Linked DNA regions of Homo sapiens. The protein of the gene in region 1 interacts with the protein of each later gene in a pairwise test. Each region holds a gene or a part of one and is shown on either strand. Other genes may lie near its edges.

The links. Proteins that work in one complex are often made in the same cells at the same time.
Region 2: the proteins of TRIM59 (region 1) and RNFT1 interact in a two-hybrid assay, tested with the Homo sapiens proteins (one large-scale study listed by BioGRID).
Region 3: the proteins of TRIM59 (region 1) and UTP25 interact in a two-hybrid assay, tested with the Homo sapiens proteins (one large-scale study listed by BioGRID).
Region 4: the proteins of TRIM59 (region 1) and PKNOX1 interact in a two-hybrid assay, tested with the Homo sapiens proteins (one large-scale study listed by BioGRID and IntAct).

Annotation. Positions count from the first base shown.
Region 1 is NC_000003.12:160,437,395-160,439,786, forward strand, and holds part of TRIM59 (tripartite motif-containing protein 59), read right to left. Parts: intron 1,793-2,392; 5' UTR 1,790-1,792; coding exon 578-1,789; 3' UTR 1-577. UniProt on the Homo sapiens protein: E3 ubiquitin ligase involved in different processes such as development and immune response. Serves as a negative regulator for innate immune signaling pathways by suppressing RLR-induced activation of IRF3/7 and NF-kappa-B via interaction with adapter ECSIT.
Region 2 is NC_000017.11:59,958,241-59,961,740, reverse strand, and holds part of RNFT1 (E3 ubiquitin-protein ligase RNFT1), read left to right. Parts: intron 1-1,572; coding exon 1,573-1,673; intron 1,674-3,296; coding exon 3,297-3,450; intron 3,451-3,500. UniProt on the Homo sapiens protein: E3 ubiquitin-protein ligase that acts in the endoplasmic reticulum (ER)-associated degradation (ERAD) pathway, which targets misfolded proteins that accumulate in the endoplasmic reticulum (ER) for ubiquitination and subsequent proteasome-mediated degradation.
Region 3 is NC_000001.11:209,834,472-209,837,971, reverse strand, and holds part of UTP25 (U3 small nucleolar RNA-associated protein 25 homolog), read right to left. Parts: intron 2,898-3,500; coding exon 2,809-2,897; intron 1,172-2,808; coding exon 761-1,171; intron 1-760. UniProt on the Homo sapiens protein: Component of the ribosomal small subunit processome for the biogenesis of ribosomes, functions in pre-ribosomal RNA (pre-rRNA) processing. Essential for embryonic development in part through the regulation of p53 pathway.
Region 4 is NC_000021.9:42,977,562-42,981,061, reverse strand, and holds part of PKNOX1 (homeobox protein PKNOX1), read right to left. Parts: intron 1-3,500. UniProt on the Homo sapiens protein: Activates transcription in the presence of PBX1A and HOXA1.

The DNA.
Region 1 (2,392 bases):
CAAAAGCAATAGTTTTATTTGGAGTGAATGGTGATAAGCATTTAGGGCTCTTAAATCTATCTCAAACACAGGTATGTTTGATCAAAAGATCTTTAAGCCATGCCTTATCACTTTAAGACTTTGTTGCTTGATTTTGAAACCTTTCTATCATCCTTATTCACCCATTCAAAAGCTTCAAGCCACATCAAAATAAAGGTATATGTTCTTTCAGGATTTTGCTATATATATAAAGAACTGTAAAGCCAATTAACTGCAGTATATAATAATGGTAAAAGACAATATTGGTACAAGAATGTTTAAATGTCACAGCAACATTATGTCAACCATCATAAAGCCAATAAAAATGGGATAGTGTATTACTTTTCAAATTGTTACTAGATTCTGTTTCCCAAAGATTTGACTATTTCAGATATAACTTTGACATATCATTGCTAACCAAAAGAAGCAACAAATATAAACATTTGTTTATATTAGTTGCAGCACTAATAAAGCTTAGTTTGCTCTTTATCCATGCTACCCCATTTTTTGTTTAGCAATGTACAGAATAAGCCCATTTAAACAATTCAGGTTGACATTTTCAATGGGAAACTATTTTCCACACAAATTCCTTCAACAAATAGAAAATGTGACACAGTATATTCTTTACCTTATGCAGACTGTTAGATAAACTTTGGTAAACAGATAGAGAGGCTTCAGAAAACCATATTAAAGTGATTTCACTTAAAAAGGTTATGATGTGTTGGTTGAAAAAGAGTATCGACATCAGTATTACTGAAATTAATGTAACTACAACAATGTTTAAAATTTTTAAAAATTCAACTTCCTTTTCATCCTTACCAGGCCAGGAACATGACATCCTTTTTGGAGAAATTTTCATTTTGGGAATGAGAACGTTCTTAATTTGTCCAATTTCTGTTCTGCTCCATTCTTCTTTCAATATTTTGCTTACTCGAGGATAAATTTCAACGGGTTGAACCTCAGGAAGTGGTCTTTGTTTCAAGATCTGTACATGCTGGCGTACATCATCAACTTTTTCAAGAAATTTAAGTGGAGACTCTTCTTGTAAAGATATTGTCAGTGCCATTAATTCAAGCTGCTGCTCTCGTATTTCCTTCATTCTTTCAATTTGTGGAGTATATTCTTGATTAATTAGATTGCCAACATCACAGAGAGCCGTTAGGAAACTTTTTTTTTTCTGTTCTAATGTATCATTAAGCTCCTTAAAATACTGGAGAACAGCTTCCTTATCGCCTTGGATCATTTTCTCAGAATGAGATTTTTGTTCTTTCAGCTTTTCAATAAGATGGGTAAGATCTGTCCAGTGTGTGTCAGTCAACTGTTCAAGCAGTTTTTGAGGAGTGTCCTTTTCTTTCAAATAGGCACTTTGAAGGTCATCTATAGGATGACCATGATGTTGACCTATGGTAAGGCAATGACCACAAACTAATTTTTTATCTAATAGACAGTAAACATTTAATGGTTGCCTGTAATGTTCAGGGCAGGTGACAATATCTGGATGGTCTTCTTGCTGGTACTTTTCAATAATAGCCCTTAGTGCAAAATTAACAGGTAAAGATTCAATGCCAGTTGGAGCAATTTCAGTAATACTTCTGCAATTAGGGCACTTGAGTGGAATTCGTAAAGGTCTCCATATATAAAAGTTACCAGATGCCTGAAGAATGTTTTCCAAACAATTTCTACAAAATGTATGAGAGCATGGCAGTACACGAGGATCTTCAAAAATACTATAACATATGGGACAAGTTAACTCTTCCTCAAAATTGTGCATTTCCTGTCAAGAGAAAAATGTATTTTAAGTTTACATAGAGACACCTGTACATATTATTTAACATTCTAGGCATTAACCTCCAAATTGTTACCATACTGCTTGTCATTTAAAAGAGAACAAGGTATTTTTAAAATGAAGTTTTCTGAGTAATTCATTTCCTAGTATATATAGTGAATAACTGATCACAATTAAGAGTTTATTCCTTAGGGACCAAAATCATCCCAAACAAAGCAATTATCATTAATTTGTAGTAAAATGCTTCAAATTTAAGTTATTTAAATTTGTTGCTATGTGATATGGTTTGGCTGTGTCTCCACCCAAATCTCATCTTGAATTGTAGCTCCCATAATTCCCACATGTTGTGGGAGGGACTCAGCGGTAGATAACTTTAGTCATGGGGGCAGTTCCCCCATACTGTTCTTGTAGTATCACGAGATCTGATGGTTTTGTAAGAGGAAACCCCTTTTGCTTCACTCATTCTCTTTTCTTGTCTGCCGCCATGTGAGACGTGCCTTTCACCTTCTGCCATGATTGTGAGGTCTCCCCAGCCATGTGGAACTGTGAGTCCATTAAACCTCTTTTTCCTTATAAATTACCCAGTCT
Region 2 (3,500 bases), on another chromosome or scaffold:
GCTGGGCGTGGTGGCGCTTGCCTGTAGTCCCAGCTACTTGGGAGGCTGAGGCAGGAGAATTGCTTGAACCCGGGAGGCAGAGGTTGCAGTGAGCCAAGATTGTGCCACTGCACTCCAGCCTGGCGACAGAGTGAGACTCCATCTCAAAAAAAAAAAGAGAGAAAATGAAACCCAAGGAATTTTTCCATAACATAAGTTACACGAGCCCGTCATATAAATCATTGGGAAAAAGAGGATGAGTTTCTAAAATTTCACCTTAAGGCAACTTTAAATGGCTATGTCTGTGTAAAGTATCATGCATTCTGACCTGGAAATTTATAGTTAAACCTATCAAACTAGAAAAATCTTAATGATTTAAAATTAGTAAAACTTCATTAAACTTGACTTTAAAAGTGAGATTACAGGCAAGGCACAGTGGCTCATGCCTGTAATCTCAGCACTTTGGGAGGCTGAGATGGGCAGATTGCTTGAGCCCAGGAATTGAAGACGAGCCTGGGCAACATGGCAAAACCCCATCTCTACAAAAAATACAAAAAATTAGCTGGGCGTGGTGGCACGTGCCTGTAATCTCTGCTATCTGGGAGGCTGAGGTGGGAGGATTGCCTGACCCCAGGTGGTTGGGGCTGCAGTGAGTTGTGATCATGCCACTGCACTCCAGTCTGGGTGAAAGAGTGAGACCCAGTCTCAAAAAAGTAAAAAAAAAAAAAGGGAGATTACAACTACTTGGGAGGCTGAGTTGGGAAGAATGCTTGAGCCTAGGAATTCTGAGCAATGTGTCGAGACCCCATATATTAAAAAAGTGAGATTAAAACATTAATTTATTAAATTCTTATAATCTGAGAATTTAAAAAATATAAACCTTGACAAGTGAGTCAAGGTTAAAATGCATTTTGAAATTTTCTTTTGTGGGTGGGTCCATTTTTTTTCTGAGACGGTGTTTTGCTCTGTCACCCGGGCTGGAGTGCAGTGGCGTGATCTTGGCTCACTGCAACCTCTGCCTCCTGGGTTCAAGTGATTCTCGTGCCTCAGCCTCCTGAGTAGCTGGGATTACAGGCACGTGCCACGGCGCCTGGCTAACTTTTGTACTTTTTTTAGTAGAGACAGGTTTCACCATGTTGGGCAGGCTGGTCACAAACTCCTGACCTCAAGCGATCCGCCGACCTTGGCCTCCCAAAGTGCTGGGATTACAAGTGTGAGCCACTGCCCCCGTCCTGGGTGGGTCCTTTATGTCAGCTTGTAGAAGACCTGGCTTCTTTTTTTTTTTTTTAATTTAATTTAATTTTCTTTTTTTTTTTTTTTTTTTGAGAGAAGACTTGGCTTCTTTGAAACATAGGTAATGTTTTTCATACAGTGAAGAAACTTGTATTTTAAACATTTGTTTAATATAAGAGTTCTGTTTGGTCACTAAAGTAGTATAAAACAGTAACTGTGATGATTATGTACAGTTTAACATATTCTATATTAAGATTTAGAAAAATATTCTAAGTTAATAGTCATTAAAGTAAAACAGTTTAATGATATTTAAAATTCTGGCAAAATCAAAGTAACATTATAAAATTGTTTATCTTTCAGGAAAGGTCCTCAAAGATTCAGTGTGCTTGGTTACTGGTATTCTTAGCAGGATCTTCTGTTCTTTTATATTACACCTTTCATTCTCAGTCACTTTATTACAGGTAATTAGAGGTCCAAATACACAATTACATTTTTAATGTAATCATATATTTCATAGCACTTTGTATCTTACTTCACATAGTACTTATTGTATTCAGTTCAGTTCAGTTTTTAACTTTCTCCTTTCATAAGCGAGAGCTTTTTTTTTTTTTTTCTTTTTGAGACGGAGTCTCACTCTCTCGCCCAGCCTGGAGTGCAGTGTCTTGATCTTGGCTCACTGCAACCTTTGCCTCTCAGGTTCAAGCAATTCTCCCGTCTAAGCCTCCTGAGTAGCTGGGATTACAGGCACACGCCACCACGCCTGGCAAATTTTTGTATTTTTAATAGAGACGGAGTTTCACCATGTTGGTCAGACCTCCTGACCTCGTGATCTGCCTGCCTCCACCTCCTAAAGTGCTGGGATTACAGGTGTGAGCCACTGCACCCAGCCTCATAAGTGAGAGCTTTAAGTGACTTACTCAGATTTTGTATCCCCAGTGCCTTGGCACATAACAGATGCTCAATAAATATTTAATTTTTTGATACCTGAGTTTTTGTTTACATATTTCGTATTTTTAAAGTACCATTAGGTTGTTATTATTGGTCGTTGTTTCTGAAAGTAAGAACACTTACTAAATGACAGTAGCTGATAAGTCTCCATGTCAAATGGGAGTATTCTGAATTTTCAGCTTTTATTAGAATATTAGAAGACCTGGTTTCACTGGAGTTGGAGAGATGGGCAAATCTGGGATATAGTTTGGAGGTGGAGCCAGTATCCCTCAGATGGACTGGATTGGATAGGTGGGTGGAGAGAAGCAAGAATGACCTCTGGGTTTTTAGTCTAAGCAGCTGGCTGGATGGTGGTGTCATTTCATTGGGTTGAGGAAGGAACTGATTTTGAGGAGAAAAATCAATAATTTTGTTTTGAACATGTTAAGTTTGAGAGGCTAAGTAGAATTGATAAGAAAGTGGTTCCAAATATATGTCATGAACTCAGGGTAGAGGTTAAGGCAATAAATTTTGGTATCAGGAGCATATGGTTGATATTTAAAAACCACAGGACTGGACAAAACTAACCCAGGAAAGAGAGTGTAGATAGAGAGCCCAGTACTGGACATGACCACAATTAGAAGAGAAACAGCAAAGGAGACTAAGAAGAAACCAGCAGTGAAATATGAGAAATAGAAAAGTGTTGTGTTAAAAGTCTAGAAAGAAAATTATTCAGGGAGGGAAGATGGAAAAAGAGAGTGACCTTGAAATTTAGCCATACAGAGGGAGTTGATGATCTTGACAAGCAATTCATTGAAAGGAAGAGATGGAATCCTGATTGGAATTGGTTAAGAAAAACACAGCAGATGTCTGGTATTGATGAGTTTTTTTCATTTACAGGCTAGAAAGGTGTCAACTATGACAAACCGTGAAGACTTTTTCCTTATTCTATGAAGGGAAGATCTAAAATCCAAACAGGTTTAAAAAGTCTCTTTAAGCAAAATGATCCTCCATTCCATTATTGTGAACTCTGACATCCTGCCAAACTCATATTTTTTACATATCAAAATAAAATATTTGTAGCAAATTAAAACCCTTTATTAATACTTTATCTTTGTATGTTGCTCTGATAAATTTTGATGTTTTTCTTTTGGTAGCTTAATTTTTTTAAATCCTACTTTGGACCATTTGAGCTTCTGGGAAGTATTTTGGATTGTTGGAATTACAGACTTCATTCTGAAATTCTTTTTCATGGGCTTAAAATGCCTTATTTTATTGGTGCCTTCTTTCATCATGCCTTTTAAATCTAAGGTAAGAAACTCACTTATGCTTTATTGGAGTGATGTTATCGAATCACATTA
Region 3 (3,500 bases), on another chromosome or scaffold:
AGAAATCTCTAAAGGCCACATTAGTATCAAATTTCTAGAATCCTATTAAACTCAATGAGAAAATTCTAAAAAGATGAGGCTTCTTCAATACGGAGAGATGCAGTTCAGGGCAGGGGGACAAGTCCTGGTTCTATAACATCATGAATAATGTAGATAAAATTGAAAGCCATTTCCTGTTAAGGCCTCAAATCCACTAGAGCTTAGACTTATGAATACAAACGCATCACTTTAAGCAGCAATAACTTTACAGTGGCAAATGTAAATTTTTGCTTTCAAAGGCTGACGTATGTATGTGGCTTAGTGAAGAGAATCTATGGTTCTTGTCTCATCTCTGCTATTCTTTCCCTGGTTCTCTTTAGCAAGGCCCTCTATGAATTTCTACGAATTTGGGGTTGTCCACAGCTGTAATATGGAGGGATTGGATAAAAGGCTCATTAAGGTCCCATCCAGCTTTGACAACCACAAAGAAGAGATTTATAATGGAGTTTTATTTATATACTCTGGGTTTATCTTTAAGGAAAGTGTCATGAAGTGCCTCCTTCTCGCAAGTTTCCAGCTACATCCACTGTCAGAAACAGCCCACTAAGCTGCTGCAGTGCTGCTCTGACACTACCTGGCCTACTTAATATGCTCACATTTGGGCTCATTCATTATGCCAGTCAATTATTAAAATACCCAAGTTCCTGCTAAGTGTCAGGCACCTCTATGGCAGTGCCTTGCAGCCACCTCCTCGAGAGCAAAGCTTTCCTGCTGGACTCACCTTGGGCCTTGTTAACCCTTGGTCTCTGAAGTCATCATCATCACCCACTCCAAACTTCTGGCTTCGGCGTCTGCTATTGTTGCCAAGCACCTGGGCATTGGCTTTGAGGATGTGATTTATCACATGCAGGCAATACACATGGCGGATCTCTTCCCCGTTCTTCAGAGCAGTCCTTTCCGGGTAGAACAGGTCCCGGTAAGAATTCATAATTAAGAAGAGTTCTTTCTGGAGGGGGGTGAATGGGCTGCTTGATTTTTGGGGACCAGATAGGAACTGGCTGTTGGTCTTAGTCCAGGTGGATTCCAGAGGCTTCTGGAGATGAAGTGACTTTAAGTCAATATCCTTTGGGGGTTTAAATGTTTCCAACTTCTGAAACTTAGAGGAAAAGAAAAGCTGGCCCAGAATAGGCCACTAGGGGAGAAACAGATCAAGAGCCAAATTAGAAATGAATAACAGTAAATTACATTCACATAGTACTATATTTAGCGAATTTTTTCATGATTTATAGATCATCTCATTTAATCCTCACAACAGCCCTGCAAGGTAGTTACCATGATACTCATGTTATAGTTTAGGAAGCACTGAGGTTCATACAGAGGTTGTATGATACAAAGTTTACACAGAAGAAAATGGAGCTGAGGGCTAGACCCCAAGGTTTCTGACTTCAAATCTGAGCTCTTCACCCTATCAGTTGTCCCACACTGTTCTGTGGAATATATTCTGGGAAGAGTCAACATTCATTCTAGAAACAAAGGGGTTCCATGGTCAAATACCCTTGATAAACATCACAAAACTTAATTCCTCTGAGGGAGATTGACAATGTACACTCGATACTAAAGGTGTTGACAAGTTCTATGACAAGAAATCTGTCCATTTTGTTTAAATCCTAAGGAATACTATTTTCTATTTTGTGGGATACAAGTTTAAGAATTTTTGCATTATAGCTAAATTGCTGATCTAAAAATAGGACAACCTCAGCAATAAAAAGAAATAAATTACTGATAGCTGAAATAACTTGGATGACTCTCCAGGGAATCATGCTGAGTGAAAAAAAAACAATCTCAAAAGGTTACATGCTGTATGAGTCATTTAACATTTTTAAAATGACAAAATTATAGAAATGGAGACCAGATTAGTGGTTACCAGGGGTTAGAAATGGGGGTGGGGCAGGGTGCAGAGGGAGGCAGATATGGTTATAAAAGGGCAACAAGGATTTGTATTTTGCTGGAAATGTTCTGCATCTTGATGGCAGGAGTAGATACAGGAACCTATGCATGATAAAATTGTATATAAATATAGGCACAGGCATATGCAGTTGAACAGGAGTAAAACCAGATCTGAGTAAGACTGGTAGATTATATCAATGTCAGTTTCCTGGCTGTGACATTATACTACAGTTCTACAAGATTTCACCACTGAGGAAAACTGGGCAAAGGGTACAAGATGTCTTTGTATGATTTCTTACAACTGCATGTATATCTATAATTATTCCCTCAATAAAAATTTCAATTAAAAAAAGGATGACCAACTCTCATGAATGGCATCAGTGGTAAGAACAAAGAAGCAAAAACTGCCCAATATCTGGATAATTTATTTGTGGACCTACCTCAGATATTTCAAACAAATGAACAACAGTAGTACCTACTGTTTTAATGAACACTGTTTTACTGAACACTATGTATTAGTAAACTATTCTATTTTGAGATAGGTATTATTATCCCCCTCTAGCAGACTAGAATAGTGAATAGCAAAAAAGCAGATGAACTTGCCTTGGGTCAAAATGTGATAGCTCCTTGAAGATGTTGGTCTCCAAATCCACTCTTACCCATCATTATATTATCTGGCACCCACACTCCAGCTTCCTGGTGCGTTTTCTAGCTACAACTGTGCCCCACTAGGCTCTTCTAGCCTTCCTTATGCCCTGCTTCCCTATCAAGCCATCTACTGCAGGTGTATATCATACATTCTGGGAGGCCACTAAAACCCAAGACCACTGTTTTATTTAGAGCTTTCTCTATTTGTGACCGGGATGACCAAGCAACACTTACTTTAAGCTCGTGGGTAGTTTTGGGATTTGTGGCAACAGCCTGAATTGCTTTTTCTTTCAGTTCTTTGTTCACATGTTGAAGAAATGGATCTAATTCAGAAATAAAAAATGTCAGCACACTATGCAACTACAGAGGGGTTTTGTGGTCTTCCCCTGTGAAAGACATGTTGATCTTCATTGTGTTAACTCATCCTTTTCTCCATTGACTTTCCCCACCCTCTGGCCAAGTCCAGAGCTTAAAAACTTCTGAAAGGTTCATTTTCCTAAAACATTTCTCTAATTATATTACTTCCCAGCTTGAAAACTTTTGAAGAAACTTCTCAGCCTGGAATTCAGAGCACTTTAGGATATACCTCCAACCTGCATCTCCGTTATCATTTCTGGACTATATGGCCCTCAAATTCTTCTGCCTCTGTGCTTTTCCTTCCTTCAACTAAAAATTCCAGCCTCTCCTTCACTTCATTTTTGCATATCCAAATGTTATCAATTTAATGTTACCCACTGAATCACAATAAATACTTCCCAGGCTTACTGTGTTAGGCACAACGTTGGCTCACCTTGTTCCCTAGAGTCATCACTTTCTCAAGTCTCCTACTCTGCCCAACCCACCCATTCCAACACATATACATATATACATGTCTTATCTAGCAGACTGCAAGGTCTCTAAGAACAGGTTCCATGTCTGATTGATCT
Region 4 (3,500 bases), on another chromosome or scaffold:
CCTCCAAGGACACACACTGTTAGGCTTTGGGTTCCCCTATCTGTGCCGTTTTTATTTCCTTGTCTCTTTTGTCATCAATATAATCATTTGAGGAAGTAAAGAAAGGACACCATATATTCCTACAAATGGATAGGCTGAGAGTAAATCAACTTGGTATTTGTGAACATGAATGATAAAAGGCAAAAACTTCTAGCTGAAATGTAGCACTCCTTCAATTACAAAGGCAGACAATAAGCCCTGGAGTTTTAGCAGGAACAGCAACAGGTATTTTCCAAAGCATTAGAGTGTCACAAAAAATCTCGTCACTACTCCCAAATGAATTACCAGAGCCACAGCTCAATCCGGTTACTAAGCTAATAAATGGGACTATCACCAATTTGGTTCAATACAGTATTTTAATAACTGTATTTCAAAATAATTTGTTCTCTTCTTCATCTATTTATTTCCTTTAAAGTGCTGTTAAGAGGCCCCCAGAGGCCAAGCAAACGTGAAAATTTAAGACGCCCCCTCTCCCACCAGAGTCTATACTTTGCATCACTTTAGCAGTTTCAGGCTGTCCTTCTAAACAGTTTCAGACACTTTTAACAATTTGCAACAAAAGTGTAAGCCGCAAATAGGATGTTACTTCTCATAAGTAGCACCTTTCTATTTCTGCTATTTACAAGTAGTATTTTTTTTTCTCTTTTTTCGGACATGGAGTCTTGCTCTGTCGCCCAGCCTGAAGTGCACTGGAGCGATCTCAGCTCACTGCAACCTCCACCTCCTGGTTCAAGTGATTCTCCTGCCTCAGCCTCCCGAGTAGCTGGGGATACAGGCTCCTGCCACCACACCCAGCTAATTTTGCATTTTTAGTAGAGACAGGGGTTGCCCCATCTTGGCCAGGCTGGTCTCAAACTCCTGACCTCAGGCAATCCACCCACCTCGGCCTCCCAAAGCGCTAGGATTACAGGTGTGAGCCACCGCACCTGGCCTCACAAGTAGTACTTTTCTAAAGTTACTGCCAGAGAAACGTTAACTACATATAGAGTACAGGAATCCCAACAAAATGCATTGTACTCAGTATCATTACCACAGAACCTGCTGGCACTTAGATCATAAGCGCAGAAGGTTAATCTTTGAAACAAGTCATACTTCACTGACCATGTTTCATCAATTCTAAGGCACACTTTTAAATGTCTGAAGTGAAAAGCATCCTTCACTGATGGGGTAAGAAAGCAGCGTGCCAGAAGGCACTGGGAGCATCTGTAGTGGTATAACACACTGCTGCATTTTAGATTCAACAGACTATAAGCACCTCATTTTTCTTTTTTCTTTTTTTCTGAGATGGAGTCTCGCTGTGTCACCCAGGCTGGAGTGCAGTGGCGCGATCTCGGCTCACTGCAAGCTCCGCCCCCTGGGTTCACGCCATTCTCCTGCCTTAGCCTCCCAAGTGGCTGAGAATACAGGTGCCCGCCACTACGCCCAGCTAATTCTTTGTATATTTAGTAGAGACGGGGTTTCACAGTGTTAGCCAGGATGGTCTCGATCTCCTGACCTCGTGATCCACCCGCCTCGGCCTCCCAAAGTGCTGGGATTACAGGCGTCAGCCACTGCGCCTGGCTATAAGCACCTCATTTTACCTTTTATTGTGTTTTGCTTTATTGCACTCAGCAGGTACTATGTTTTTCACAAGTTGAAGATCTGTGGCAACCCTGTATGAAGAAAGCAAGCCTATTGGTGCCAATTTTCCAAAAACAGGAGCTCACTTTGTGTCTGTGTTACATTTTGGTAATTCTTCACTATTTCAAACTTTGTCATTATTATGTCTGTTACGGGGATCTGTGATCAGTGATCTTTGATGTTCAGGTCAGGAACAGTGATTCATATGGGTAATCCCAACACTTCGGAAGGACGAGGCAGGAAGGCGGCTTGAAAGGATTCACCATTCTGGAAAGGAACTTAAGAGACAGCCGAGGCAACATAATGAGACCTCACTTCTACAAAACTTTTTCAAAATTAGCTGGGCATGCTGGCACATCCCTGTAGTCCCAGTTACTCAGGGGGCTGAGGTGGGAGAACCACTTTAGCCCAAGAGGTCAAGAGTGCAGTGAGCTATGATCTCACCACTGCATCCCAACCTGAGCAACAGAATGAGACCCTGTCTCTCAAAAACATAGCCAAGGCCAGGAACAGTGGATCATGCCTGAGGCTGAGGCAGGAGGACCACTTGAGGCCAGGAGTTTGAGACCTGCCTGGATAACATAGGGAGACTTCATCTCTTTAAAAAAAAACAAAAAAGGGCTGGGTGCGGTGGCTCATGCCTGTAATCCCAGTACTCTGGGAGGCCAAGGTGGGTGGATTATTTGAGGTCAGGAGTTCAAGACCAGCCTGGCCAATACGGCGAAACCCTGTCTCTACTAAAAATACAAAAATTAGCCGGGCGTGGTGGCTCACGTCTGTAGTCCCAACTACTTGGTAGGCTGAGGCAAGAGAATCACTTGAACCCGGGAGGCAGAGGTTGCAGTGAGCCAAGATCGCGCCACTGCACTCTAGCCTGGGCGACAGAGCGACTCCATCTCAAAAAAAAAAAAAAAAAGAAAAGAAAAGAAAAAAACAAGTTAGCCAAGTTGTAAATGCAAAGCAGAAGTTTCTTTCCAATTTTTGAAATTAAAAAAATACATACACAAATTTTTGAAATTTTAAATCACCTCTCAGAACAAAGGAAAACTTAAAGGCAATTAAAAAGTGCTACTCCAGTGAACACATGAATAAGAAAATGGCCAGGTCCGTTGGCTCACACCTGTAATCCCAACACTTTGGGAGGCCAAGGCGGGCGGATCACTTGAGGTCAGGAGTTCGAGACCAGCCTGGTCAACATGGTGAAACCTTACCTCTACTAATAATACAAAAATTAGCTGGACACATGCTGCACACCTGTTATCCCAGCTACTCGGGAGGTTGAGGCAAGAGAATTGCTTGCACCCAGGAGGCAGAGGTTGCAGTGAGCCATGATCATACCACTGCACTCCAACCTGGGCAATAGTCTCAAAAAAAGAGGGAGGGAGGGAAAGAAAGTGAAACAGCCTTATTGGTGATATGTGGAAAGTATGAGTGGTCTGATTAGATCAAACCAGCCACAACATTCCCTTAAACTGAAGCCTAATCGAGAACCAGGCCCAAGTTTTCTTCAATTCTATGAAGGCTGAGAGAGGTGAGGAAGATGCAGAAGAAAAGTTGGAGCCAGGCACGGCAGCTCACCCCTGTAATCCCAGCACTTTGAGAGGCTGAGGCAGGTGGATCACCTGAGGTCAGAAGTCCCAGCCTAGCTAACATTTAGTAGAGCCCGTCTCTACTAAAAATACAAAAAATTAGCTGTATGTGGTGGCAGCTGCCTGTACTCCCAGCTACTACGGAGGCTGAGGCAGGAGAATCGCTTGAACCCGGGAGGTGGAGGTTGCAGTGAGCCGAGATCACGCCATTGCTCTCCAGCTTGGGCAACAAGAGTGAAAATCCATCTCAAA